7 separate regions of the Homo sapiens genome follow, and regions 2, 3, 4, 5, 6 and 7 are each reported to be linked to region 1. The links are microRNA targets in miRTarBase. Many come from high-throughput screens and were not tested one by one. Region 1 holds a microRNA gene; each other region holds the end of a gene's coding sequence.

Region 1 (4,069 bases):
GAAGCAGGTGCACCCCGACACCGGCATCTCGTCCAAGGCCATGGGCATCATGAACTCCTTCGTCAATGACATCTTCGAGCGCATCGCCAGCGAGGCCTCCCGCCTGGCGCACTACAAACAAGCGCTCCACCATCACGTCCCGCGAAGTGCAGACGGCCGTGCGCCTGCTGCTGCCCGGCGAGCTGGCCAAGCACGCCGTGTCCGAGGGCACTAAGGCTGTCACCAAGTACACCAGCTCCAAGTGAGGTGCGTCCCGGCGCCCCGAACCCAAAGGCTCTTTTCAGAGCCACCTCCAAGCTCCAAAAGGAGCGTGCCACCTGGTCTGGTTGTGACCTGTGATTCAATTGGAGTAATGAGGGAAAGTAGACTGAGCCGTGGGGGCGCAAGTCTTAGAGACAAAATTAGGCTTCTTGTTTGTAACGGCATATTTCCCTTAGAAAGGCTGCGTTCGTCTTGTGTTGGCCACAGGCAAAGTCAGAGAGGGGGCAGTACAGGCGATTGCGCCATGGATCCCATCCAAAGATCTGTGTGTGGCTTACGCCCTGCGCGCGAGGAGCGTGGGTCACCTCCGGGAAGATCTTGTGCCACGTCCCCGCCCCCAGTGCCTCCTGGCGGCTGAGACTGGAGGACGTGCTCACTGAGGTCCGGGGTTGGAGGTGAGGGGGTTATCGCGCCGTCTGGGCGGAGGCGCTTGGGTCCGTTCTTCTCCCGCCCCTTTCCTCCCTCCTTAGCCACAACTAGACACTGTGAGCTTCTAGCCAAAACCATTTCAGCAGCGTTGCGCCTAAGCAGCTCTTTATGCCACGCCTTCCTGCTTGAAACATCAAAACAGCAGGCTCACAGATCTCCTTATCACTCAGCTAAAATTTCCCCAATTAAGGGATTCTCGTATTTTACCCCCAAAATGTGTGTGTGTGTGTGTGTACGCATATTACACAGTGAAAGATTATTTTGAATAATGCAAATATAGTGCTTTTTAAAAAAAACTCCAGCAAATCATAGGAAAAATAAGTATGATCTCTGGATGACACATTAAAAACTAAGGCATGCAGGCCTGACTGGGGCCCAGGCTGTCCTCCCCCTAAAAATACCCCATACCGGTGACACCCCAACCACGAATACCTGAGAGCTACCCACCCTCTAAGCAAAAACGTTGCCTGGAATTAGAATTCGGTTTCCAGGCTCAGTTCCCACTGGTAGAAGATGCACTCTACCCAGGCTCAGTTCCCACTGCACACTCCCAACACAATGACAGCCACGCATTTATCAACATTTAACCTCTCTGGCCTCATAAAGTAAATCCATTTTCTTGGGTTAGTTTCTTCTTAAAGGGAGTTTTCTTTCCTCCAAATTCTTTTTGTAAATAGGCTTTATTTTTTAGAGCACTTTTTCAGAGCAATATGCTTTTTTATTAGTAGTACGTAATAGTTGTACATATTTGGGGGGTACAAATATTTTGATATACGCATAGGCTTAACAATCAAACCAGGGCAACTGGGACATCCGTCATCATATTCACACCCTCTTTAGGTCGAGATCATTCCAATTCCTCTCCTCCAGCAATACAACTAATTATTGTTAACTACAGTCACCCTACTTTTCTAACCAATACTAGATGTTACCATTTCTTCTAAGCATATTTTTGTACCCATTAATCAACTTCATCTCCTCCTTTCCCCACCACTCTTCCCAGCTTCTGGTAACCAGCAATCAACTTTCTACCTCCATGAGATGCATGTTCTTAGCTCCCACGTATGAGTGAGATCATGCAGTATTTGTCTTTCTGTGCCTGATTTGTTTTACTTAACATAATGTCCTCCAGTTCCATCCATGTTGCTGATGACGGGATTTCATTTTTTTTAATGGCCAAATAGTATTCGAATGTGTAAATGTACCACATATTCTTTATCCATATATCTACTGATGGGCACTAAGGTTGACTTTCTATCTTGGCTATTATAAATAGTGCTGCAATGAACATGAGACCGCAGACATCTCTTTGATATACTGATTTCCTTTCTTTTGGATATATACCCAGCAATGGGGTTGCTGGATCATATGGTAAGTCTGTTTTTAGTTTTTTAAAGAATGCCCATATTTGTCTCTATAGTGGCTGTACTGATTTACATTCTTACCAGCAGTGTACAAGCATCCCCTTTCCCTGCGTTCTCACCAACATTTGTTATTTTTTGTTTTTTAATCAAAGTTGGTTTAATTGGAGATGATTCCTTCCAAATTATTTTATTTACTGCATAATAATTAGCAAATCTGACTTGAAATTTCCATCTGAGATGGGTGAGGGGCAATCTCTTAAATACATGTCAGATTGTATGCCAGTCTGGAGGGATTTTGTAGGCATACAATCTGACATGTATTTAAGTGATTGTCACTCACCCATCTCAGATAGGTGAGATGAAGCTTAGTTTAAAAATTTGGCTTAGTTTAAGAATCTTGGCATGTCTCTCCAACCCAGAAAATGCTTCCATTTTGTTGAGTGAGTCCTAATTCCCTTAGTCTCTGTGGATTCTCACATATTTGATGTGCACTGCCTTCATTTATCATTAACATTTGTCTTTCTCTGTTGTAACACTATAATTAGAGAAATGGGTTCTGGACACGATTGCTCTGAATTTTCTCCATTATAAAATCTTAGTAGCAAGGATCCTGTTTTACCTTCTTTGCCTCTCCCTTAACAGATCCCTGTCCTAGGAGAGACGGACAAATCCCATTCATTCTGGGCCTGGGGGTGCTAATGTAGCAGGAAAAGACAGCCTGTTTCTACTTCAAGTTTGTGCCAGGGGAATCAGAAGGACTGAGACATGAATTGACTGACGTTTGACATTATCCATCACAAAATGCCTTCTTAGAGAATTACACTTGGAAAATGTCATGAAATGTTCATCTTGTGCCTTGATTTGATCTCTGGCACTAACCAGTGTTGTTGCCTTGTGCTAACACAATCATTCACTCTCTCTACTGGAGACTGGTTTCACTTTATTAAACCTATGTTTTAAGTTCATTAAGGTGGAGAACTATATGGGTCTGTGAGAGTAGTTTCACAGCTGCAAATGTTTAAGGTATTGACTTCCAATCCATGCTGGTAGGAGGCCGAGGGCTTGGATGTTCCAGTCATTGGGCACCTGTTTCATAGTGGAGAGGACTGGATTCAACAGCTTTTCATACAAATCCTATATTTCTTGACAGTACTAAGGGTGTTGACAAGTCCCACTTACTTTTGATGATGGATCACTGTTTAATATTTGGATTATAACTAGGGATGCAAAGAATTGAATAAAGTGCCTATGACAAAATTGTCATTCCTGTGTATTTTTTGTAAATTTTTTTTGGAGCATATATCAAAACAAAACAGAATGGAAATGACCCCGTGCACTGCTAGCATTGTAACCATATGGAAATGATCCCATGCTGTGCTAACACTGTAACAATATGAACACTGCATGTGTGCAGTCATTGAGGTGGAAAGGAGAGGAGAGAAGAGAGTGGGTGCACCATCCAGCTCATTAAGAGTCAGTTTCACTAAAAGTTTATCTGTTTGATAACATCAAATTATTTATGTTTTGAACAATTGTGTACTGTCGAGATGATTTTTCTTAACAGTGAGAGACTACCCAGAGGTATGCTTAAATTTCAATGTAGACTTTTTTGCAGAGAACAATAGACAAAACACTATTAAACATACAATAGATATATTATGGTAGGGTGAAATTGTAAGGCAAATGGAGAATGGAAATAGGCATTCAGGAGGAAAAAAATCATCTGAAACATCGCATTGACAAAGAAAAATTTGGTCATGTATTTTATGAATTGATTATACTATCATATTGATATTCCAAAAGGCACCTTGAGACTGATGTGAGAATTTTGATTTTTAAAAAGTTCCACGTTGGTATTTGTATCTTTGCAACTATTTTAATTGAAAATAAAAATATTTTAGATAGCTTTAAAACATGCGAGGTTCTCAAAGATTCTTGTAGAGGAATCACGCAGGAAAAAAAAGGTGGGGAATAGGGGACAAAGCCGTTTTGGTCGAGGATGTTCACGGTGACCT
Region 2 (4,069 bases), not on the chromosome of region 1:
AAAACAATTGCTAATAAAACGGTTGAAAGTAAAAAATATATACTAGAATATAAAAGATGAAAAAAACAGGAAAGATACAATAGAGAATTCAGTTCTGGAATCTAATAGAAGCTCCAAAAATAGAGAACAGAGAAAACTTGGGAAAAAAATTATCAAATACAAAAAACACTCCTAGGGACCAAGAAAAAAAAAAAAAACAATTTTCAAAGCACCCTGAGTATCACACACAAGTCGCATTCATCATAAAAGTGAAGACAACCAATATCTTTTGGGATCTTTTAAGAAAATTAACATCAAACCTGGGAAGGTAATATGAAAAATGCATGATCTGTCTCCTTCAAAACAAAAAAACACTACAAACAGGGTAAACAAATTGCTCAAAAATTGTGTGATCCAAATTCAAAGCAAGCTGGTATGTGGAATGGCTTTGGGCAGTTTTCATTTGACCCTGACACTTCCCATTCTCCCTGCAGACACAAAAGTCATAAAATTAGGAAGATAGTAAAGGTGAGGCAATCAAGACTGTGTGAATTGGCCCATCCAGTGAACAATATTTATATAAACACATGCTTTTGATTTTCAATTCTGGAATCTGTGTATATAAGGGAGACTTTATGGTTATAGAAAATGCAAATGTTAACTTGGGAAATGTAAATGTGCAGTTTACAGATGTTATGACATACAAATAGAGGAAAGGAAAAGGTGCCTTTAAAATCATCTCACAGGTATACTTCTACGGCGAGTCAGAGATGTGAGTTAAATCTTCATATATCAAAGTCAACAGACGTTCTGGTTGGTGACATAAAAATACAGGTTGAGCATCCCTAATCCAAAAATTCAAAATCCCAAATGCTCCTAAACCTGAAACCTTGAGCACCAATGTGATGCCTCAGATTGTCCACATGTGACTAAGATAGTGACACCTTAGTTTTCAGACAGCTCAAGGTACACAAACTTTGTTTCATGCACAAAATTACTTAAAATATCAAAACTTATCTTCAAGTTGTATATGAGGTATAATGAAACAAATGAATTTCATGTTTAGGCTTGGGTCCCATCTCCAAGATCTCTCATTATATATTATGCAAATATTCCAAAATCCAAAAAAAAATCTGATATCTGAAACATTTCTGGTCCCGAGCATTTCAGATAAGGGATACTCAACCTGTATATGATGGCAGTGAACAGAAATTGTTAATAATAGCTGATTGTTGGATGTGGAATGGCAATTTGGAAGGGGAGGGGCAGAAAAATATTGCTTTCTATTATAAATGCTTCTATGGCATTTTCTTTTCTAATTTATGCATGTTACTTTGATAATTTTTAAAGAGATGATTCAAACCTATACCTAGAAATGAGGAGAGTAATTAAACATAGGGACATTTACAGTTCATCTGTAATGGTGGTAGATGTATGATACATTTCCTTTCCTTTTTTATATTTGATTCAGTAATGCTACTATGGTAATCTGACAAATCAAGCAAAAGCTTAAAAGGAATCAGTTCAGAGGGAGCAATCTGTTAAAAAAAAAAAAAGCAATGAAAAAAATGAGACAAGACTGGCCTATACTCTTCCTAAACGAAACTAGAAAATTAAGACATACAGATATTACAAATAACAATCCAAACACCTTCATTCATTTAGCCTTTCCCAGAAGTGAGATAACAGAAGAAAAGTGAAATATGTCCCATATTTTTATTAATTGAACTTCCCTTTTTGAGTTTTTCTTGTTGTCAACATTTTTTCTTTTTATTATTATACTCGAAGTTCTAGAGTACATGTGCACAACATGCAGGTTTGTTACATATGTATACATGTGCCATGCTGGTGCCCTTTTTGAGTTTCTATGTTCTTTGTATTCTTCTATTAGTATATCCACATATAAAGAACACTGATAACCACTGTGGTCACAGTAATATTTTTCCTTGTCTACTTTTCACTATTTTTTATGTAGGCAACTAATCTTTCCTTGAGTGATCAAATCTGTTGTTTCTTTTTTGATTTCTGTTCCTTAGCTTAAAGTCAACCCTTCAAAGGGTTAATATTTAACTATTAGCTTTAATATTTTATAATTCACATGAAGTTAATTTTAAATATGGCATGAGGTAGGCATCTACCCAGTTATTCTAACACTATCTGTTGATATGCCTTCCTTTTTCATATGTGATGCCTCATTTATTAACTAAATTCCTATAACAAGATATACATCAGGGACATGTCACTTTGGATTGTTTAGGTGAACAGTAACACTTAATACCAATCATTTTTGTCTCCCCAGTATTTACACCTCACTGGGTCTTAAATATTTGGGTTCGTTCATTTAACAATTAATTAATAACTTCGGGCTGGGTGCGGTGGCTCACGCGTGTAATCCCAGCACTTTGAGAGGTGGAGGCGGGCGGATCACGAGGTCAGGAGTTCGAGACCAGGCTGGCCAACATAGTGAAACCCGTCTCTACTAAAAATTAGCTGGGCATTGTGGCGCGTGTCTGTAATCCCAGCTACTCGGGAGAGGCTGAGGCAGGAGAACTGCTTGAACCCGGGAGGCAGAGGTTGCAGTGAGCCAAGATCACGCCATTACACTCCAGCCTTAGCAACAAGAGCAAGACTCCGTCTCAAAAAAAAAAAGAACTTCATTATTCTAGGCATAGTAAGTTCAAGATATATAATGGAAAATGAAGAAAGACAGGGTTCTTTCATCAATCTTAAAATATGAATCAAAAACTTATGGAAAGAGTAAGCAGCATTGTTTTTTGTTGATAAACGGGTTTGAGTTCTAAGATTGATTTTCATTGCCACATCTGTGCAGTAATGTTTATACATTAATATTTAATTTATGTAAGACTTTGTTCACTGCACTGGTTACGCAAGACACAAAAAAACAGTTTCAAAAATATAGGAGTTTGGGCTAGGATATGCAACAAAGAAAAATTTAAAGTGCTGATGGAAAACTTAAGGGAAAAGTGTTTCATCCTTTATTTCAAGGAAAGATTGTATATTATAAAAATAAACATTGTTATGCCATTGAGTACAGAGCTCCCATCACAAACATTTAACCATTTTCATCATACATCTGATGATCTAAAAATCAAAATCACTTTGAAAGGCTTAAGTATTCTACTTTCTCTTAAAGATTATCACATTATAGTGACACACTACTGTTTTAAAGACTCAAGTAAAAATGAGACCCAGTAATTTTTAACCAAAAGTGTATCATATCCTATTTGCTTGTTTTATAAGATCAATAAACACTATAGTAAGACTTGGCATTTAAACATTAAACATGTCTAAGCCCCCTAAAGAATATACCAGAAATAAGAAAGACATTTAGAATGCTTTAATATTCCCAGTTAACACCATTTGTATCAGTAACTGCAATGTTGTAAGTTTTAGCATCTCACATAACTAGTCAGTAAGGATTTTTTTTTTAAGTGTAGGAGTGAGAATACAAGGACAGGAGCTATGAGAATGTTAAGTTTTATACTTCTGTTAAAAACTCAAAAATCAAAACTATTTTCTTCTCTGCATCAAAACCACAGACTTGAAGGATGTTTTGGCTTTAATCCCATGACTCATCATCTACTGGATTGGGAGCTTGTGAAGAAGAAAACCCAGCTGTGTTCAAAGTGCTCTTGCCCTGGTAATTATTTAAAAAAAAAAAAAAAGAAACAAACAAACATTTAATTTTATGACAGCTTTAAAGTTACATCACTCAGACTGAGAGCAAGGACTCAAAGTATCTACCATGTCTTCCCCAAATAATCAAAGAACTTTATTCTCACTAAATCTGATTCACCTGAAAAAAGGCTCCTGTCAAATGAGGAAATCTAAATTGCACAAAATGTTTCAAGAAAAATATTTTTTAAGTCAATAGTTTTGACAAGTGGGGAAAACTTAATGCACTACACTCAATGAATCAGCATAAATATTTAATTAACATGCTCATTGTTTCTGAATAAAGGCGGTGTTCAGCCTATAAAAACCTGACATACCAGAAAAGACTTGTAGCCTCGTGGCTGGGCGCAGTGGCTCACGCCTGTAATCTCAGCACTTTGGGAGGTTGAAGCAG
Region 3 (4,069 bases), not on the chromosome of region 1:
CAGCTAAAGCTCTCAGTGTGAATCATGTTCCATCAATGAAACACACACATGTGCAATATGGAAGATGAGTGAAATCCAGGCTATCTTCCTGAAGCTACTGTTCCTGGCAAGTGTAGCTGTGGGGACTGAGTTTTGGGCAGCAGCAACTAACTCCCAGCTTCCATGTGCTTGAGAGTCAGTTGCCAGGATGGCAGCAGCTGCATCCTCAGTCTAAGATGGCAGCCAATGGTGATGTTTTCATGAATCCACCGTTCACGTGGCAGCCTCCTGGAGCTCAGACTGATGCCTGCTCCTCCAGCCTTCCAATACCTTTGCAAACACCTGAATTCCACATTAATCTCTCTCTGTTTAGAATTCCCAGAGTGGCTTCGGTTTCCTGGGCTGAACCCTGCCTGGTAACTCCATTTTAACAGGCTTCTAGATCTTTCCTCAAAAACTGTAAAGCTGATGATGGTTTTGAAAAAAATCACGATTTCTTAACAACGTGGAAGCAGAGAGGTCACCTTTAGCAAATGTATGCCTTAAGTGGGTAGAATTCACTTCATAATAACAAATCAGGTTCAAGACCTCCAAAGACATAATGACAATTAATTGGCAAACCTCATCCCCTCTCACACATTTCTACCCTGTTGACATTAAATGAAGGGCCAGAATTAAGCTACTGATAAAGACGAACACTTTATTCTAATTGTTCTATGATTCATGACCTGTGTTCCAACACCTAGAAACCCATCAGGATACAAATATATCACTTAAAATAAGACACATAGGGATGGTTAGTTTTTCTGTCTCATTCTATATTGTTCTGAGAAATTACAGATATTTTCTTCTAAGAAAGGCATGATCAACTATTCAAGTTTTGCTGAATCTAAGGTAATGTCAGAATACTCTTAAACACCTTACGGCCTCAGATCCCAGTAGTTTAGAATTCTAGGGATGATGTAAATTTATAATCACTGTGAAAATGTTATCCTATCAAAACTCTGTAGAAACATCTATGCTTTTGCAATAACAGCGTAAAAGACCTCTTCTGATGAGAGAGACAGAGAGAGAGAGAGAGAGGGAGAGAGAAAGAAAAAAGAAAGAAAGATAAATTAGGGAGTTGGGGTAACCAGGTAATTTAGGCCAATGGATTCAACTGTGCCTTAAGCTGGTACTACCCTCATTTATGTGAGTCAATCAAGTCCCCCTTTTTTGCTCAAGCTACTCTGAGTTGGGTTTTTATCACTTGCAACCAAGAGTCACGACTAACAAACCCATCCTACTGTTACCTCTTTTGCCTTGGCTCTGTATTCCACACAGATTTAATCCTGGCGCTGATATAATTTTGTTTAAATATTTCTTCACCAGCTTGCCTGTGAACTTACAGAAGGCAGACATTTGTGTCTTTGCATTCCCAGTACCTAGCACATGGTAGACATTCAGCGAACGTCTGCAGGGTGGATCATGCACCCAATGTTGTCAACTCATTTGATGATCAGCCCCCTTTCCCCCAACCAAAAAAAAAAGATGTAAAATGAAACAGCACAGATCTTACTAGTGGGGAGAAAGGTGAATGCCTCTAACGCTTTTAGAAAAAGGATACCTTTGGGGAAACTAAGTGACTAACAAATAAAAATGGTTCTCTAAAAATAGGAGAGCTGTCCCTGCAAGCTGAACTATCAGAAGATGAAGAATGAGGTCTCCCTGAAATGCCCACCATAAGACTGCCAGATATGGGACTGCTGGATGACACTCTGGCTACCCCACTGAGTTTTATGAAAACATAACAGAATAAAGACACTTACTTGTCAACTCAGGTAAAGAATACACACAGAAGGTGTCTTAGTCCGTTCTGGGTGCTATAACAAAATAACAGACTGGGCAATTTATAAGTAACAGAAACTTATTTTTTACAGTTTGAAGGCTGGGATGATCAAGGTGCCAGAAAATTGAGAATCTAGTGAGGGCTTGCTCTCTGCTTCAAAGATGACACCTTCTGGCTGTATCCTGTGGCAGAAGGGGACAAAGAAGCTCCCTCGGGCCACTTCCGTAAGGGCACTGATCCCATTCACAAGGGCAAAGCCCTCATGACCTAATCACCTCCCAGATGCCCCACTTCTGAATGCCATCAGAGATGAGGTTTCAACGTAAGAATTTTGGGAGGACACATTCAGACCATAGCAGGAGCAATGGGCTGATCCTGATCCCACTTAAATAGCTCATAACTTCTGTAGATAGCTCAGATTCCTCAGGATTGGAGGAAACAGTTCCCAACCTAAATAAGGGCTCCTGGAAATATGTGTTAATGAATGAAATACATACCAACAACTGTGAAGAGATGTTGGTGTGATCTGTTGACTCACCTGAAATGGTTTAAAGATTTCTTCCCAATAGGATGTGAAGAGCCATCTGTTCCTGGGGATTATGTTCTGGTTGATGTAGGGATTAGGTCTCCACTTGAGGACAAAGTGGGGAAGGGCACACTTAAGCGAACAGCTCTCTTGGTTGGCCTATATTGACTGGGCAGATTTTATATCAGAATTCCAAATATCCGCCTAGTGTGGTTATAGTTGAGAGAGCACAGATTAGAAGGTGTCAACTACAGGCTCAAGTTTCATCACCCATTCAACGAATCATTGAAGGGAGCCAATGATTTTGTTTGAATTCCAGTCTCTCTAGATACAAAATGGAGTCAATTCTTTCTGTACCCACCTTATTAGTTGCTAGACAAAACTTTGGCAATCATTTGCTCTAATTCCCTTATCTCCCCCACAAAGAAACTCATCAGTTAAAGCCTTGTTCTTACCTTTCTTGGTCACAGAACCCTCTGAGGATTTGTTGAAAGCTATGGATCCTTCTCCACAGAAACATGCAGTTGTGTGTGTGTGCTCCCACAAAGTCATTTTGGCATATTATTTTTGAAAGAATCACAAAACTCTTGTGGTTCATTCTTAGGGAAGCCAAGTTAAAAAACAACCACCACCTCTGAACCAAAGGAATTTTTAAAAACATACACAGAGTAAAAGAAGCTTGTTCATGTCATCATGAATTTATTTTCAGGCAATATGATAATCTATTAACACTCAGCATACTCTGAACTTACAGAATAAGTACCACGCCATACTTCCTCATTAATGACTATCATTTTACATGAGCTTCTTCCACAATCACAATGAGAGAACAGATTGCTACATGTTTGCTGGTAAATGCATTCAGTAAGGCACTCAAATCCTAGACACGAACTAAGCACAGAACGCTCTTCCCTGCTTTAATAAATTGAAACATGATCTCATTTCCTTCATTTTCAATACTTTTTATAGAAAGACACGCTTGTCTTGAACTTGTCTAAACATAGGTTTATATAAACTAATCCATTATCATTATAGTTATAATCAAGGAAATGATTTCACATTGACGGTTTTTTAGGTAGGGATAAGCGAAAGCACTGCAGCAGTTTCTGAGGGAATGTCTTCTCTGTGGTTCCCCATACTTAGTACAATGCCTGGAATGTAGCAGGGACTAAATACAGTGAACAAATGGGCAAACCTTTAATTCCCAGGGATCTGCTACATATTGCCTTGACTGGTAGATCATTTCTCCAGGAGAAAGTAAGAAACCAAAAGACAAAAACAATCTTTTTAAACCTCACAGGATTTTCTTAGAAAAAAGTTTTAATTTATATATCTAGTGCAATTCTCTTTGTAAAATATATTTCATAAAAAATCCAAAGCAAAAGCCCTGTCATTCATTTATTTCAAAAGACAAATCATTTCAGTACTTCTTCCTTGAAATGCCTGCAATTTCTTCCTCTGGCCTCAGAGACGGGCATTGGCTCCATGCTTTACAATGTCAGGATAAAAATCCAGGAGGGAGAAATCTTGTTGTAATGGATAGCTGTTTTCATCTAACACAAAAAGGCTCTGAATCTTTAATACACAAGGTTCTGCGCTGACTGCCAACAAGGAGTGGAACAGGTCTGCCACGACCATCCCATAGGTGATCTCTGAGGAAGGAACTGCAAAAGACAAAAACACAGAGCTCCCAAGATCGCTGCTAGCTTGACAGGAGCACACACATTGAATGGTTT
Region 4 (4,069 bases), not on the chromosome of region 1:
TAGCTGATGCCAGAGGGGTGGGACAGTGTTTGTGTGTGTGTATATATATATAAATATATGTATGTATATTTCTTTTTTTACTTTTTTCTTTTTTTTTTTTGAGATGGAGTCTCACTCTGTCACCCAGGCTGGAGTGCAGTGGTGCAGTCTTGACTCACTGCAACCTCCACCTCCCAGGTTCAAGCAATTCTCATGCCTCAGCCTCCTAAGTAGCTGGGATTATAGGCATGCACCACCATACCTGGCTAATTTTTGTATTTTTAGTAGAGACTGGGTTTTGCCATGTTGGCCAGGCTGATCTCGAACTCCGGACCTCAGGTGATCTGCCTGCCTTGGCCTCCCAAAGTGCTGGAATTACAGGCGTGAGCCACCGCGCTCAGCCAGGAGTCTGTATATTTAACAAGCACCATGAATTTTTTTTTAACACTCCTCATTCCTGTAAGGAACAAAGTGGAATTTTAAAAAAGGATCTAATGATTTATTTAAATGATAGCTTTAAAAGGTTATTTCTAAATGTACCAAGACTGTAGTGGATAAATACTGTTATAAAAATAATTTTCTATTTTAACATTTCTTCTCATACTTCTCACACTTCTAATTTTCAGGTGTATATTTGGGTATTAAATGAAGAACAAGAATACAAAAGAGCTTTTGATTTGGGAGCAACTGGGGTGATGACAGACTATCCAACAAAGCTTAGGGATTTTTTACATAACTTTTCAGCATAGAAAAAGAGGTACTTAGAAGTATTGAAGGAAAAAATGAAGACCTAAGAAAAAAATATTTCATGATCATTTCCCTAAGCCATTTCCAGAATGGTAAAAGGTTTAATCAGTTTTTATTACCTCATTTTTAAGCCTGTATGAGAATGTAGAAACTATATATTATATGTATATTTATTTTAAATAATATTGTATATTTTATGTTTGTAAATTGTTTAGAAAGATAATTGGTTATGAGATGTAAGTTTTAATTTCTTAATGTGCATTTTTGTTTCTAGATCTTATACAGAAATCTTGATTAATAACATACACAGAAATGTACATACTACATCATCTACAGAAATCTTGATCAATAACCTAGAAACTAGGTTATCTAGGTTATTGATCAAGATTTCTGTAGATGATGCAGTGTTCTATCATAAGTAATTCTGGAATCAAAGACTATTGGATACATTTGGCATTGGGCTGAGTGTGGTGGCTCATGCCTGTAATCCCAGCACTTTGGGAGGCTGAGACAGGCGGATCATCTGAAGTCAGGAGTTAAAGACCAGCCTGGCCAACATGGCAAAACCCCATCTCTACCAAAAATACAAAAATTAACCATGCGTGGTGGTACACGTCTGTCATCCCAGCAGCTCTTAAGGCTGAGGCACAAGAATTGCTTGAACCCGGGAGGCAGAGGCTGTAGTGAGCCAAGATAGCACCACTGCACTCCAGCCTGGGAGACAGAGTGAGACTCCGTCTCAAAAAAAAAAAAAAAAAAAAAAAATGGGAGGCCGAGGCGGGCGGATCACGAGGTCAGGAGATCGAGACCATCCTGGCTAACATGGTGAAACCCCGTCTCTACTAAAAATACAAAAAATTAGCTGGGCGTGGTGGTGGGCACCTTAGTCCCAGCTACTCGGGAGGCTGAGTCAGGAGAATGGCGTGAACCCGGGAGGCGGAGCTTGCAGTGAGCCGAGATCGCGCCACTGCACTCCAGCCTGGGCTACAGAGCAAGACTCCGTCTCAAAAAAAGAAAAAAAGAAAAAAAATTGGCAATAGTCTTCACTGGAATACAATCAATTAGTAAAAGATTTTTTTTTTTTTTTTGACATGTAGTCTTGCTCTGTCGCCGAGGCCGGAGTGCAGTGGTGCGATCTTGGCTCACTGCAACCTCTGCCTCCCAGGTTCCAGCAATTCTCCTGCCTCTGCCTCCCGAGTACCTGGGATTACAGGTGCCTGCTACCATGCCCAGCTAATTTTTGTATTTTTAGTAGAGACAGGGTTTTGCCACGTTGGCCAGACTGGTCTCGAACTCCTGACCTCAGGTGATCCACCCACCTCGGCCTCTCAAAGTGCTGGGATTACAGGTTTGAACCACTGCACCCGGCCAGTAAAAGAAATTTTGAAGGCCATTGCAGCTATTTGGTAGTGTCTTGTTATTTCTAGGTGTACCTTAGTTAAAGAGGAAAAATAAAACGGAAAAAAGCTTGGAAATCAGTGATGTGTAGTTATTTGGCAAGTTATACATAATCAGCAGCAGCCAGGCTCAAGAAAATAAAAGTTGATTAGTTGATCAGAAATAAAATCTGTAGAGTGAATTAGATTTCTGAGTTGTTGTTGTTAATGGAACATTCTATTTGAGACCTTTTTCAGGTGTGTAGCAATTCTACCATGTCCATTTTTTTAAGCATTAAAAAGGAACTTACCAGTTGTAAATTAAGACAAGATCCAAATAGTCATATTTTTGTGTTTCCTCTAAAAAAATGTAAGATTTCCATTTTTGGCACTGACTAACTGAGCCTACATCTAGATTTTAAATACCATCTTGAATCCTAATAATTAAACTGATGAAAGTGCATATCATTGTTCCTAACATTTATGAACCCCCATAAAGATGTTCCTGATCTTTAAAACTCATTAATCTGAGTATTAAGTAGAAACAGAATTTTCCAAAGCATTAGACATCACTTTCTCAGTTTATCTGAGGTGACTTCGTGTACATCTGTTTCTAATATATTTGACTAATTTTCATGATCTCAGATTGTGAGGTAAATGTAATCTGGAATAATAAGTGTCTTTTACCTAGATTACATCTCTCATTTGGAGTTTGGCAATGAAACTGCTATGAAGAATGACTGTACTCTCCTATCTGTCCCTGGATGACATAAATATCATTTGCTTTGTTGTTTAAACTGAAATAAAGTTTTCCAAGAACAAAGTAAGCATTCTTCATTCTTTTTCAGTTTTAATTCCAAATATACTTTATAGATTTTTTTGCAGAATTTAATGAGGTGATGCTTTAATCATATGAATAATAAATGCACCTGAGATTTCTCTCTAGTAAAGAAAAGAAAATATGGAAACACTTTTATGGTAAGAAAGTTACTTCTTGGCATTTGAACAAATAACTTGGGAGGGTAATCCACTGAATCAGTCATTTTCAATTTCACTTATTGTAACTTATGGTTATAGTTGCTAGGGATCATTTTGATCATCTTTGATAGAATTCTTTTTGTTATTTCTCCTTTCTAAATTTTGCTTTGTTATGATTCAGAACAGATCATATTAAAGGGCCAGCTTATATTTTATGTAAACCAGTAGAAGAAAAAGTACCCAACAAGGTAAAGATGTTTAGAAAATAATGTTTCAAAAGTTTGGTGATTTTATAGTCAAGGTGACTTTAATTTTCTTAATAAAAACATAGTATTTTCTAACAAGGAAGTTGGTCATCATTCAGTTAACATCTGAATTCTGCTTTTTGATAGGGGCATCAAGTTTTTTGTTTGTTTGTTTGTTTGTTTTTTGAGACAGGGTCTTGCTCTGCCACCCAGGCTGGAGTGCAGTGGCTCAGTCTCCACTCACTGTAGCCCCAACCTCCCTGGCTCCAGTGATACTCCTACCTCAGCCTCCTGAGTAGCTGCCAGTACAGGAGTACACCACCACACCCTGCTAATTTTTGTATTTTTTTGTAGAGACAGGGTTGCTCCATGTTGCCCATGGCTCAAGCAATCTGCCCGACTTGGCCTCCCAAAGTGCTGGGATTACAGGCACGAGCCACTGCGCCCGGCCTCAGAATTTCTTAAAGCTCTCATTTCAGTTCTAGAAATTGAGGAGTGGGGAGGGACTACAGGGAGTCATCTCATAGCCACACTGTGAAGAAAGGATGGCTGTGATGGGTTGAGAAAACAGAACATAAATAATAAATCATAGTATGCTCCAGTATGGGAAACCATTAATATATAACACAGCCTGAATGATTTTGCCTAGAGTTATGCAAAATGGTGACCCCAGAAAGAATCCATTGGAAAAAAAAAAATCAAAAGAGATTCTGCAATAGATAAGAATGACAAGTTAAGGGTGGC
Region 5 (4,069 bases), not on the chromosome of region 1:
TTTAGTGAATTGGGGCCAGCATATAAAAGGTGAACAAGTAGAAAATATGAGGGTAGATCATATTTGTAAAGGTAAATAACATTTTATGAAGATTTTGTTTCAATCATTTATGTTTATGGATAATCTGTTCTGATGTAAAATGTTTTTTGACCTGTAGGTCACAGTCACAATTTTTGAGAAGCACTTGTTTAAAGGTTCAGTGTTACACAAATTATCAGATTACTTTTAGTAGTAATTAACAGAAAATTCAGATCCAAATGGGAATAATCACTAAAAAAGATTATTATTCCAACGTAACTAGGATTCCAGTTTGGGAGCTCTTGGTGCTGTAGTTTTAGTTGTTTTTTTTTTTTTTTTTTTTTTTTTATACTTTAAGTTTTAGGGTACATGTGCACATTGTGCAGGTTAGTTACATGTGTATACATGTGCCGTGCTGGTGCGCTGCACCCACTAACTCGTCATCTAGCATTAGGTATATCTCCCAATGCTATCCCTCCCCTCTCCCCCCACCCCACAACAGTCCCCAGAGTGTGATATTCCCCTTCCTGTGTCCATGTGATCTCATTGTTCAATTCCCACCTATGAGTGAGAATATGCGGTGTTTGGTTTTTTGTTCTTGCGATAGTTTACTGAGAGTTTTAGTTGTTCTAATCTGCCACTCTCAGTGTTATCTTCTGCCTAAAGCCAGTTCCCCAGTGGCACTTAGAATAACATGCCAATTTATTCATCTAGGCAGAATAGAGCTTAGATTCTCACTGCCTTAACTTAGTTTAGGCCTGTCCACTACAACCCATTCAGGAACTAATCTACTGTAGGAAACTGTAATGCAATGTGGCAAATTCAGTGTATTATCGAAACATAGAGCACCTCAGCTGACGAAGTCATGAATTTAGCTGTGGGGATGGGCGGGGAGCCACCTAGGTGATACCAAAAGTTTGTGTGTAAGTTACATAGGTAAAAGAGAGAAGGCTGTCTGCACGGCAGGGACTGCTTTAACAAAAGGTTGTGGACAGGGGAGCTGTGCACAGGGAAACATCCAAAATAGGAACTTTTATGCTTCTAGAGCATAGCATTTAGAGGCAAAGGAAGTAGTTGGAGTGATGAGTAGATGCCTGAACAAGGAGGGGAGTCATGATAAGGATCCCATAGGAAATAAGCAACTGGAGATCATCACCAGGGAATTAAGATGATCAGATTCCCGTCAGTACAGCCAAAGTGTAGAGGGAGGTAAGTTAGGAGGTTGTTGAAGTAACCCAGGATAGAGGTATCTTGGATTTCTTACTAGGGAGCAAGTTGACTGCAGATTTGAGAAACATTACGGAAATAAACATGACTTGTTAATTTCAGTGTCAATGAGGGTAAGGAAATAATCTCTGACTTTTCTAGTCATCTCCCCAAGATATCAGGCTTACAGTGTATTAACTGTAAAGCCTAAACTTGTTACCTTTTGAGAAAGGAGTGATCATTACTTTGTCTACCTTACTGTAAAGAACTGGCGCCCAAGACGGTGGGAACCTTTGAGAGTGGTGCTCTTGGGTTTGGAACGCATTAAAGAGGTGCCTAGATGGACTTGGGGGGAGCAGTCCACTAGTTGAAGAAGTTATTTATAAGCCAGATTAGTAAAATTCTTTTTTTTTGAGACAGAGTCTCGCTCTGTTGCCCAGGCTGGAGTGCAGTGGCACAATCTCAGCTCACTGCAAGCTCCGCCTCCCAGGTTCACGCCATTCTCCTGCCTCAGCCTCCTGAGTAGCTGGGACTATAGGTGCCCGCAACCACGCCCAGCTAACTTTTTGTATTTTTAGTGGAGACGGGGTTTCACCGTGTTAGCCAGGATGGTCTTGATCTCCTGACCTTATGATCTGCCTGCCTTGGCCTCCCAAAGTGTGGGGATTACAGGCGTGAGCCACCGCACCCGGCAGTAAAATTCTTGATGCTGTTACTTTCCTTGTGTTATCCCTGAGCCTTTAGCAAATGTTTTAGGATTCATGTACTTTTATTTGGACCAAAACATTAAAGGGGAAGCAGTGTCCCTTGAGGCCACTGTGGTAGTGGCAGTGGCCTGTTATTGTGAGCTCATTGATGGTACAGGTTGTTTCTTATCTCTAGTCTCTATTAGATGAACAGTGGATATTGTATCCCTTCTGCCTAAATTGATGCTGGGAACTAGCAGATGCTCAAAAAGCATGTAGGGAACTGTTGGAAGTCCCAAAGGGAGATATATTTCTGGGGTCTAAGAGGAAAAGCTACAGGAGCCCAGCCACAATCCATCTATTTAAAATAAAGATGTGGTTTTAAGGAAAGTGGTTTCTCTAGAAGTTAGGTATGACTCCTAGATACCTAGCTAGGGTGGATATTCATGCTAAGACAGAAGAGGGGTATATTTTTTAGCAGAAGCAGAGTTGTAGCTTTATTTCATAAATGTTTTGAGTGTCTACTATATTTCATTTAAAATATAAGAGCTTTCTGGCTATAGTGTGAAGAACAAACCATAGTAGAGAAAAAGAGATAAAGAGCTCTGTTGGGAGTAGATGAGTATCAGACTAAGGCAGCTACAGCTAAATTAGCACCAGAATAGTTCGTTCTGTCACTGAAGCCATGTCTGCTACACCAGTGATCCCTTTACCCTTACTCTTACTTATTATCTCAGACAGTGGATGGGTTCAGTGGGCCAAATACACTCAGAAGATAGAGCCTAAGATAAAATCTCTTCTACCCACTTTACTGGGGATATGGCAATTATCAGGCACTGCTATCAAGTGTTTGGACCAAGACTGATGGCTCCTTTCTAAGTCCTTCCATAACTACTACCCTACTAAAGCCTCTGAACCCAAGGGAACGGCAGCCTGGCTGTGCCAAGAAAGGGGCTCCCAGCTTCTCACATTCTGAAGCCGGATTTCCCTTTTCTGGGTTCCCAGAGAGGCCAGATTTGACAACAATAAAAACTTCCAGGAAATTCCTAGGAGGTTTAATTTCCTAATCCTTCTCTCGCATAGACCCTCTTTCTTACCCCTTCCCCTCACCAAGAGGAAGGAGCTTATCCTGGAGCCCAACATCCTCTGCTGAATGTCTCCACCCCTTTGGCCAAACTGGTGGAACATCTGAGTTCTTGGGTCCTCTCCTCCCAGGCCCATTCAGGGGGTTGAAGGGAACACATTAAGGTAATGTGTGATCCTGCCTCAAAACAGAGGACTGATTGCAGTATCCCCTGAAGGTTCGCAGGGTACTAGATTGTTTAAGGAAGTTTCACTTGCAGATTGTCACTCCCCTACCCCTGTCAGGAAGTAATCTTTCTCTAAGAAATCCCAAGCACTCATCTCTAGGAGACCAGATGTCAAAACACAACCACCTCTGGCAACATTTGGAATTATAGGATGCATTCCCATGTAAACTGGCATTAAGAAAAACAAAATTGCACTAACCAAAAATAACCCAAATTTAAGGACCAGAAGCATAAGCCATGAATTTACTATCTCAGGTAGACTGAGCATTTGGATAATTCTCATTCTCCAGAAATCCCACAGGAAGGAAAAAATAAATAAATTTATATATATTCATATAAAGACTTTTATCTATTGTGCAAAGAGAGGGTCATCTGGCTCCCCAGAAGGTTCTCAACCCCATCAAGACTGTCCATTTTACATCTCTAGCTCCAGTTCTTCTCAGAGAGTAAAAGTGCTCCAAAGGCCTGTGATCATGGGTACTGATTAAGGGCTGCAGACTCTTCAGATCCAGTTAAATCCCTGGTGTTTGAGCTGTGTGGGAGCTGTGGTTGCTTGCTTCCTGGCTTTGCCTGAGGTCCTGCCGCAAACCCTGCAGCAGCTGGTTTAGGAGTGTAAGGTGGCTGTCTCTGCGAGGCAGAGGCAGGGGTGGGAGGCAATTCCCTTTATACTCGATCACTGCCATCTTGGCCCGATCCAAACTCCGATTTGGGATCTGCAGCATTCTTGTGTAGCCCCCAGTTTGATCTTTGTACCGAGGGGCCAGTACTTGAAACAGCTTTGGGATCAAATCCTTCTCCTAGAGGGAGAATTATCCAAGAGACAGCAGAGTCAGGCAAAACTGCAGAGGC
Region 6 (4,069 bases), not on the chromosome of region 1:
GCCTAGTGTAAATTTCTGCATCTCACACGACTTTAGTTTGGCCAGGTATTTATCTGCCAAAACAAGGACAAATCTTGTTGTATTAACAGCAGGGTCACTTCTCATTTTCTTTGCTGACTTACCTTTTTACTGACCGTTGTGAATTTCTGTCTCAAAATGTATAATATAGAAATGCAAGAAAAAAACAAATGTACAGATTGTAAAGTTTTTTGATACCTAATGTAAGTTTTCTTTGTGTAATATTTATATGATAAAAGACATTAGGATCCCTACAACACAAATGTCTTGTGTTTCTTCTGCTTCGTGACCCCGTAAACACTTTACCTGAATTTTTCCTATATTCCACAGCTAAGACCACTGCCCTATTCTATTAATCAAATTGAGTTTTCCTGGAAGGAAAGGCAAAGCAGCTATTCAGTTTAAAATTTTCTACATCTTTTTACAACACGAAGAAGTAACACTACAGAAATATTCAATCTCTTTCCATCTTATTCATAACTTACAGTGGTCCCCAAATATTAAGTCTATAAATACTTAACATTAAAGGAGACAGACTTGAGGTTGTCCCTTCTCTGTGGCTTTTAATTCCACAGTTTCATCTAAGCAAACTAGCATGTAAAGAAGAAATCCTTTGAAGCTATGGATAAAATTGGTAACGACAGCTCAATCCAGGTTACAGACCTACTCAGGGCAATTTATTTGTGGTCATGATTATTTAGAATGATCAGACATAGCCACAATTTTCCCTTAATCCCCAGCTAATTTTTGTTTAACCACACCAATGAAGAAAGAGGAAAAATTTCAGTCACTCAAATTCCTCTGTGGAATGCATTCTGGAACATTTAGATGGGGGTGTATTTATCATTTGGGCAATTCATAATACTTCATACAAAGTAATAAAGTCACACTGACAGCCTGATCCTGAAGGCAAGATTAAACTGCCTGCTCACCTTCCCCAATTTTCATCCCCACATTTCTCTAACCTGTGCTCCTTCCAAGGTATAGATAGTATCACTGCTCAGGACATTTTTCTGGTCACAAATTTTTTTTAGGTTGTCATGCCTCCTCTTGTCACAGATACAGGTAATAAGATGTTTTTTATTTAAAATGTTTTCCTTTTTCTGTTTAATGAGGCAAGGTTTCCCTGATCTGCAAAACAAAAGTAAGTTCAAAGAAAACCCTTGTTTCCCTTTTGATGTGTGCTTATGAGTAATAGTGTGGTGATTATGTTATAGACAGAATACATGCTCTTTATACGGTCGAGAGGAAAGATGACTACTTTAGGCAGAAACTCCCAGTAAGATCATGTCTATATTTGCTATTAGGTACCAGGCTGGACAAAAAGAGAAGAAAAAAGGGGAAGGACAATGAGGTAATTAAAAAATGAAATTGAGAACCAGGCAAAAAAGAATGAAAAGGAGGTATCAAAAAAAGTGTTGGATTTTAGGAAGCAGTGGAGTGCCATTCATCATACTCCATGTCGTATTGCACTCAATTTATAAAACATTTTCACACTATGGCCTTTCCCATTAAGGCCCCAAATTTCCTTCCTGCTATTCCAGATACTGCTCAGCAAACTGTTCTACAAAAGAAATTTTTACTGAACAAAGATTATCAGGAAAATCCCACCTTACAGGAAAGAGTAAAATATTAAGAGTCTACCTGATTCAGCTTTTCATTCAATTAAGGTTTATAGGAATGTGTACATAGGAGTGGTTTCAGCTCCAACACGATTCCAGGAGCAAGTGCTAAACTTTGATAGGAAATAAGTGATTGTAGTGAATAACCCAAGCAGCACTCCTATAAAGGTACAAAGAAATCTTATGGAAAATCTAATGAAACTGATAAACTATTGTTTCTGCCATATTTACCATAAACCTTTAGTGGTAAAAAAGTTGAAAGTAGTTGTAAATCTCCTTCATCAGCAACTAATGCTACCAAAAAAGAAGTGAGGCAGAAATGTAAAGGTTTTAAAGAAGATTTTTAAACAACTCTTGAAATATTTTACTCAAGTAGTTTTTTTCTTAAAAGTTTTTAAAAATTATTTTTCAGAGTTCATAGCTACTGATAAAGGTATTTTCTTAATTATGGAAAGCCTTTTTTTCAGCTATCACAAATGAAATTACATCTTTTCATTAAATATAAACACACAAAAAATAAATTTACAAATAACCAAAAAATTTTATATTTTCCTACCTTGAACACATTTCTTCAAAGGGTTAGCTTGAAAAATACATGTCTAAGATTACAGAATATTCAATAGTTACTTTTAGGGTTTTAACATTATTTTAGATTTTACCACAGAGTTTACCAAAAAAATAACAACAAAAAAACCTGCTAAACATCAAATACCACTTGTCCACTGGGAACAATTCAGCTTTCTATCAGTTGAGTTGGTTAGATCACATTAAGTTGTTATGTATAGGTATTGACCAGAAGCCTACAATGAGATACAGATTTTACACTAAGATTGAAAAAATTTATGGTACCAGCTCTTTTTCTCTTAACTTTCTACACTAAGAGAAAAATACATTACTTGGCCTACATCTTAAAGCATTCAAAATAGGCCCTCTGTAAGTTTTTAACAAATTGTATTTGTATTTAGGTCTTTAAGAAACAACCTGAGATGATGGTAAGTGTCTCATTCCTCATTTGACAAATGAGGACAAATCACTCCTTGAGAACTAAGGTCATTTCAATCCATAGCACCCCTGACCTAGTGCCATGATTCAAATTCACAACTCTTGATAGCTAAGACTTTGACTGCTCCAACTAGCAAATCACATATAGCCATTCCCTAACTTTGTGTTTCCCAAATCTAGCTGTGAATCAGAATTACCACAGGATGCCTTAGCCCTACCCTTGATCTACTGAAGCAGAAAATTACTGCCTTAATTCTGTGTGATACAGGTCAGCCTGCCTTTTAATATTTGGATATCTAAAGTGAGAGCATAAATGATGAAGAGACCAGTTTATAGGACTATTTCTCACACCGTCATGTAAAGTTGGTATGTGTCTTTGCTCCATTAAAGTATTTCTGACCTCAATCTTAAACTTTGCTTTGTCAAACAAAATCATGCTGATTTCAAATCCAATTAGAAAATAAGTATGTACAGTAAAAAGTAAACTTGGGCTTCAATTAATGAAACTTTAACAGAAACATGGCTAGAGAGGAATCTCCTCCTATAAGAGAAAAAAATGATTCACAACAACTGCCTACTAAATACAACTGGAAGTGCCTTTCCCTATTTTGTAAAATCGAATGAAAAACCCACAAAACACATCCACAGCAATACAGGTGAGGCAAGGGTCTATATTCCTTTCTATTACAGGTGGGGTCTTTTATATGTCTCAAACCTGAACAAAATACAGGTAACAATCTAAATTCAATCATGACAATAAAATACTTTCCATTTTCCAAGTCTGATGGTAATAAATATTTACATTTTAAAAAATAATTTTTGTTCTTTTTTTTGTTTTTTAAAAAGACACAACATGCTCAAGGGTACACAGAATATGGAAAAAGTCATCACTTCATTTGAGAGATCAACTGGTAATAAAAAACAATGTTCTTACATATTAACCAATTCAAGAGTGGTATCACCAGGGAGTCTAACATGGTGTTTACTTCAAAGATGATATTCAAGTATGTTATTTGGAACACTATTTCTAATGTATCTATAAAGAAGCAAGCACTGCTATCTAATTTTTATAGTTTTTAGTATCTTCTATATCCACCTCCTCCACCACCACCACCACCACCACCACCACCTCCTCCATATGGATCTCCATAGCCTCTTCCACCATAGCCCCCTCTTCCACCATAACCCCCTCTTCCACCATAATCTCCCCTGCCTTGGAAACCTCCTCTACCACCTCCTCCTCCTCCCCCCCACCCTCCTCCCCCTCCCCCACCACCTCCCCAACCTCCTCCTCCACCCCCCCAGCCACCTCTCCCACCCCCACCCCCACCACCTCCTCTACCACCACCTCCACCACCACCACCCCAACCACCCCTTCCACCGCCGCCTTCTTGTCTCTTTTGCCAAGGGGGCATTTCTGGAGGTGG
Region 7 (4,069 bases), not on the chromosome of region 1:
AGCCAGGTGTGGTGGTGCACACTTGTAATCACAGCTACTGGGAAAGCTGAAGTGGGAGGGTCACCTGAGCCAGGACATTGAGGCTGCAGTGAGCTGTGATTGTACCACTGCACTCCAGCTTGGGCCACAGAGTGAGACCCTGTCTCAAAAAAAAGCTGCTTAGTTGAATGGGAAGAGCTACTTGCATATAGGTGGCAGCAAGTTGTTGATGGAAGTTGGATCTCTGCAGAAGCAGCAGAGGCAGAGAAGCTGCTGTCATGTCAACACTAACAGTCATTCTTGTTTTCTTTTGCCAGGCGGCCTTCTGATCTGTTTACCACGTGAGCAAGCAGCTCGGTTCTGTGCAGAGATAAAGTCCCCCAAATATGGTGAAGGCCACCAAGCATGGATTATTGGGATTGTAGAGAAGGGCAACCGCACAGCCAGAATCATAGACAAACCCCGGATCATCGAGGTCGCACCACAAGTGGCCACTCAAAATGTGAATCCCACACCCGGGGCCACCTCTTAATCTAGACAGAAATAGCTGTTTGGTTTTGTTTTTAAATAGATCTATTTCCCTTATCACTTCAATTAAAGACTATAAACAACAAAAATCTCATTGTGTCTACACATCGGGGTGACCTTAGGTCGGTTTGTAAGTGGATACAATTAATAAAATAAAATCCATTGCCTTTTTTTCCTGTTACATTAACTGAAGATGCACCTAATCTTGAGGCAGCTTCTGAGTTGAGAATTATATTGTTATCCAATACTGTTGATTCATTTTGAATCTTTAGACACTTATCTCTTGCCGCATAGGCTTTTTAAAGGTGCTTTCACATAGCACAGGCATTACCCGTAGTCGTGTCAAATAGCAGTTGGTGTCTTCATTTTATGTATATTTATCATATAAGTCTGATTTTTTTTTTTAAGCGTCTTGAATGGTTTTCTGGAGAGACAGCATTGGTAAGTGGCACATGACGGTATCCCAGTCATAAGAGGGTTGCATGATTCCTTTGAGTGTTTGATTTGAAAAGCCTAGTCTTGTCTCTCAAGAGCATCTCGGACCCAGAACATTCTCCAGTAGTGCATTCAGTTCAACACAGCAAGTGCTTCATTGCATGGAAAACACTTTGAAGACAAAAAAGAAATCTTATTTCTTTTTTTGTAGCCTTCCTGATATTTACAGTAATACCATTAACTGTTTTATCGATAGCAAAAAAGGATACTTTTTGCAATGTTATTAGATGTTCTATAGTGCTACAAGGAATTGCCTTCCGAATGGAGGTTCATGTATAATACTCATTTACAATTCAATATATAATTACACAAATAATTTTTAAATATAATCAATAGTAAAGACTGTTCTGTGGATGGTAGTGTTTAATACATTTTCTATTTTGTACAGTGATTTCAGGCCTTTTGTTTTCTTAAAATCAGCAGCTGTTTGGCCTAATTCTTAGCATTATTTTGTCCTTTGCGCCAGTACTTTTTTGTGCACGCTTTTTGTGATCTGTGTTAAAAACCTGCATTGCCAACATTGCAGCTCGAACTTAAACTTGTTATTCAAATAAATATTTAATTTTTTAAATTGCTCTTGTATAATCAGATGCCCCTTTTAGTATTATTTTAGAAGCGTTGGGAGGGTTTTGCCTAAAGTACAATTTATCGGGAAAAACTAGATTTTAGTTTTATAAAACTTTTAAGTCTTTCATGGGACCTATATTTTCTTGAATTAAATTTTGTAGTTCTAGAATAAATAGGCAATCTAAAAAGGTGTTCTCTGTGTTATGTAAAGTGGAGGCTTCCTTATATTTTAACCTACTAAGCAATGAGGAGGGATTCCTGTCATTAAGCACAAGGGCGCTGGATCCTCAAGTGCCCATCTTCGTGAGAGAAAAAGCAGCACATCCTGCCCATTTCTGGTGCTTTCTGCTCACAGGCACCAAAGCTGCACATGTAAACTGACTTCTTGCCAAAGGAAATGACCCCTGGGAAGTTCAAGCTCCTGGAAGAGGCTTTAACTCGGACGCGCCCTCCTCCAGGAACCAGTGGGCAGGGCAGCCTTCATGCATGTGTAACTGGACCTCCAGCCATAAGCATGGTGTGCAGTATGGAAGAGCCTGCTACGGAACTGAAAGTGATTGGACATTTTATAGGAATTGATAGAGATGTTGGTCCTCAAAAGCTACAAACCAGTGGTCTGCAAAATAAAGTGTGTTGGAAACCTCTAGTGAGATAAACCTACTGTTGAGCTTTTTTTTTTTTTTTTTTTTAAATAACGATGACTGAACTTCAGTGTAGCCTGTGCCGTGAGAGCTGGTGTTTTCCTCAGTGGCAGGCCTATTGAGAGGAGGGAGCTAAGTGGAGTATGTACTTAAGGAAATAATATTTGTGAAGATTGATATTTATAAAGAGAAAATGTTGGGTACTTAGAGGTCCGTGTAAGTCTTATGATCCCAAGAGGAAGAATTTGTATTTAAAGCAGTGTTGGCTGGGCATGGTGGCTCACACCTGTAATATCAGCACTGTGGGAGGCCGAGGTGGGCAGATGACCAGAGGTCCAGAGTTCAAGACCAGACTTGCCAACATGGTGAAATCCTGTCTTTACTAAAAATACAAAAATTAGCTGGGTTTGGTGGCGCACACCTGTATTCCCAGCTACTGGGTAGGCTGAGGCACAAGAATCGCTTGAAGCCGGGAGATAGAAGTTGCAGTGAGCAACCTGCCATCACACCACTGCACTCCAGCTTGGGCGACAGAGACTCAGTCTCAAGAAACAGACTCAAGTCTCAACAAGCAAACAAAAACCAGTATTGTATAGTGGCCCAGATTCACCTGTGTTAGAATCACCCGGGGTGTTAGAAGGCAACATTCCTGCCCCTGATTTTCCAGATTCACAGAATCAGAATTTCTGGGGTGTGGGACTTTGGGAATATCTTAAATAAGGACCCTATGGGGCTATGGCCAAAAAAGTTTCAGAACCATGGGTGCAGCACACCAACATGGCACATGTATACATATGTAACAAACCTGCACGTTGTGCACATGTACCCTAAAACTTAAAGTATAATTTAAAAAAAAAACTGATCTCAAAAGGAATGTTGCAGAGGAAGGCAGGGAAAGTAAGAGGACCTGGTTTTGCAACTTTTTTTTTTTTTTTTTTTTTGAGGCGGAGTCTCTCTATCAGCCAGGCTGGAGTGCAGTGGTGCGATCTCAGCTCACTGCAACCTCTGTCTCCCAGGTTCCAGTGATTCTCCCGCCTCAGCCTCCCGAGTAGCTGGGATTACAGGCGCATGCCACCAAGCCTGACTGATTTTTGTATTTTTAGTAGAGACAGGGTTTTGCCATGTTGGTCTCGAACTGAGCTCAAACGATCCGCCTGCCTTGGCCTCCCAAAGTGCTGGGATCACAGGTGTGAGCCACCATGCCCAGCCTTTTGCAACATATTTTGCAGGAATTTTTTCCTCGACCATTCTCTTACCGACCATTCCGACCAAATCTTGACCATTCTGTTTACTTCCCACATCTGAGCTACGGCCCAGCAAGGCAGCAGAAAGACCTGTATTTTGAAAGCTCCACGAAGACTCAAATGATTGTCACTGAATATTGGAGTTCTTGGCAAAATCTATGTAGAACATTTTAAAAGTCAGTGGACAGGCCAGACATGGTGGCTCACGTCTATAATCCTAGCACTTTGGGAAGCTGAGACAGGAGGATCACTTGAGCACAGGAGTTCGAGACCAGCCTAAGCAACATAGTGAGACCTCGTCTCTACAAAAAATAAAATTTAAAAAGTGAGTGGAGAGTAAGTAGTCGATTTGACTTTCTGGTAGCACTTTAAAACTTCACACTGAAGTGTATTTATCTTGGTATACTGATTTGTTTTCTGTAAATCATATAGTATAGTTGCATCCAAAAATACAGTCTGTTAGAATGCATAGAATTAGTGAATACAACCTGAGGCAGCTGGATCATGGTGGAGTCAGTCATTCAGGCACTAGGAATAATCTGAAGGAATATTGAAGCTGCTTATTTGCACAGGCTGTGTTGAGGTATTTATTGTGTTTCAGTCCAAGAAAAATTG

The links. Region 1 holds the annotated microRNA hsa-miR-4666a-5p (AUACAUGUCAGAUUGUAUGCC, at 2,355-2,375, opposite strand). A microRNA usually pairs through its seed, bases 2 to 8, with sites in the 3' UTR of a target mRNA and lowers its output. Matches are read on the target gene's strand: a 7mer-m8 pairs with bases 2 to 8, a 7mer-A1 pairs with bases 2 to 7 and ends in A, and an 8mer does both.
Region 2: miRTarBase lists DDX4 as a target of hsa-miR-4666a-5p. The part of its 3' UTR that is shown has no 7-base or 8-base seed match.
Region 3: miRTarBase lists SHLD2 as a target of hsa-miR-4666a-5p. Seed matches in the 3' UTR shown: 7mer-m8 at 3,172-3,178 and 7mer-A1 at 3,129-3,135.
Region 4: the mRNA of GDPD1 is a reported target of hsa-miR-4666a-5p. Seed matches in the 3' UTR shown: 7mer-m8 at 1,816-1,822.
Region 5: the mRNA of MRPL17 is a reported target of hsa-miR-4666a-5p. The part of its 3' UTR that is shown has no 7-base or 8-base seed match.
Region 6: the mRNA of FAM98B is a reported target of hsa-miR-4666a-5p. Seed matches in the 3' UTR shown: 7mer-m8 at 2,233-2,239.
Region 7: the mRNA of SEPHS1 is a reported target of hsa-miR-4666a-5p. Seed matches in the 3' UTR shown: 8mer at 1,938-1,945.

Annotation. Positions count from the first base shown.
Region 1 is chr1:228,460,389-228,464,457 of GRCh38, reverse strand. MIR4666A (microRNA 4666a) reads right to left here and starts at 2,384; the gene lies at 2,306-2,384. It also overlaps the pseudogene H2BC27P.
Region 2 is chr5:55,816,031-55,820,099 of GRCh38, reverse strand. It overlaps DDX4 (DEAD-box helicase 4), which reads right to left. Exons shown (of 22, transcript NM_024415.3): 22 at 2,943-3,637. The coding sequence ends at 3,560. Among named protein-coding and RNA genes, the nearest start is that of IL31RA, 33 kb to the left of the region's middle.
Region 3 is chr10:87,190,412-87,194,480 of GRCh38, reverse strand. It overlaps SHLD2 (shieldin complex subunit 2), which reads right to left. Exons shown (of 10, transcript NM_001330112.2): 10 at 3,016-3,997. The coding sequence ends at 3,798. It overlaps LOC105378410 (a long non-coding RNA gene), which reads left to right. Exons shown (of 2, transcript XR_001747528.2): 1 at 1-1,799. Among named protein-coding and RNA genes, the nearest start is that of NUTM2A, 33 kb to the left of the region's middle.
Region 4 is chr17:59,273,046-59,277,114 of GRCh38, forward strand. It overlaps GDPD1 (glycerophosphodiester phosphodiesterase domain containing 1), which reads left to right. Exons shown (of 10, transcript NM_182569.4): 10 at 606-2,925. The coding sequence ends at 728. Among named protein-coding and RNA genes, the nearest start is that of GDPD1, 55 kb to the left of the region's middle.
Region 5 is chr11:6,678,386-6,682,454 of GRCh38, forward strand. MRPL17 (mitochondrial ribosomal protein L17) reads right to left here. Exons shown (of 3, transcript NM_022061.4): 3 at 2,000-4,017. The coding sequence ends at 3,733. Among named protein-coding and RNA genes, the nearest start is that of MRPL17, 2.9 kb to the right of the region's middle.
Region 6 is chr15:38,484,309-38,488,377 of GRCh38, reverse strand. FAM98B (family with sequence similarity 98 member B) reads right to left here. Exons shown (of 8, transcript NM_173611.4): 8 at 668-4,069. The coding sequence ends at 3,719. RASGRP1 (RAS guanyl releasing protein 1) reads left to right here. Exons shown (of 17, transcript NM_005739.4): 17 at 1-275. Among named protein-coding and RNA genes, the nearest start is that of FAM98B, 32 kb to the right of the region's middle.
Region 7 is chr10:13,315,584-13,319,652 of GRCh38, reverse strand. SEPHS1 (selenophosphate synthetase 1) reads left to right here. Exons shown (of 9, transcript NM_012247.5): 9 at 297-2,225. The coding sequence ends at 511. Among named protein-coding and RNA genes, the nearest start is that of PHYH, 18 kb to the right of the region's middle.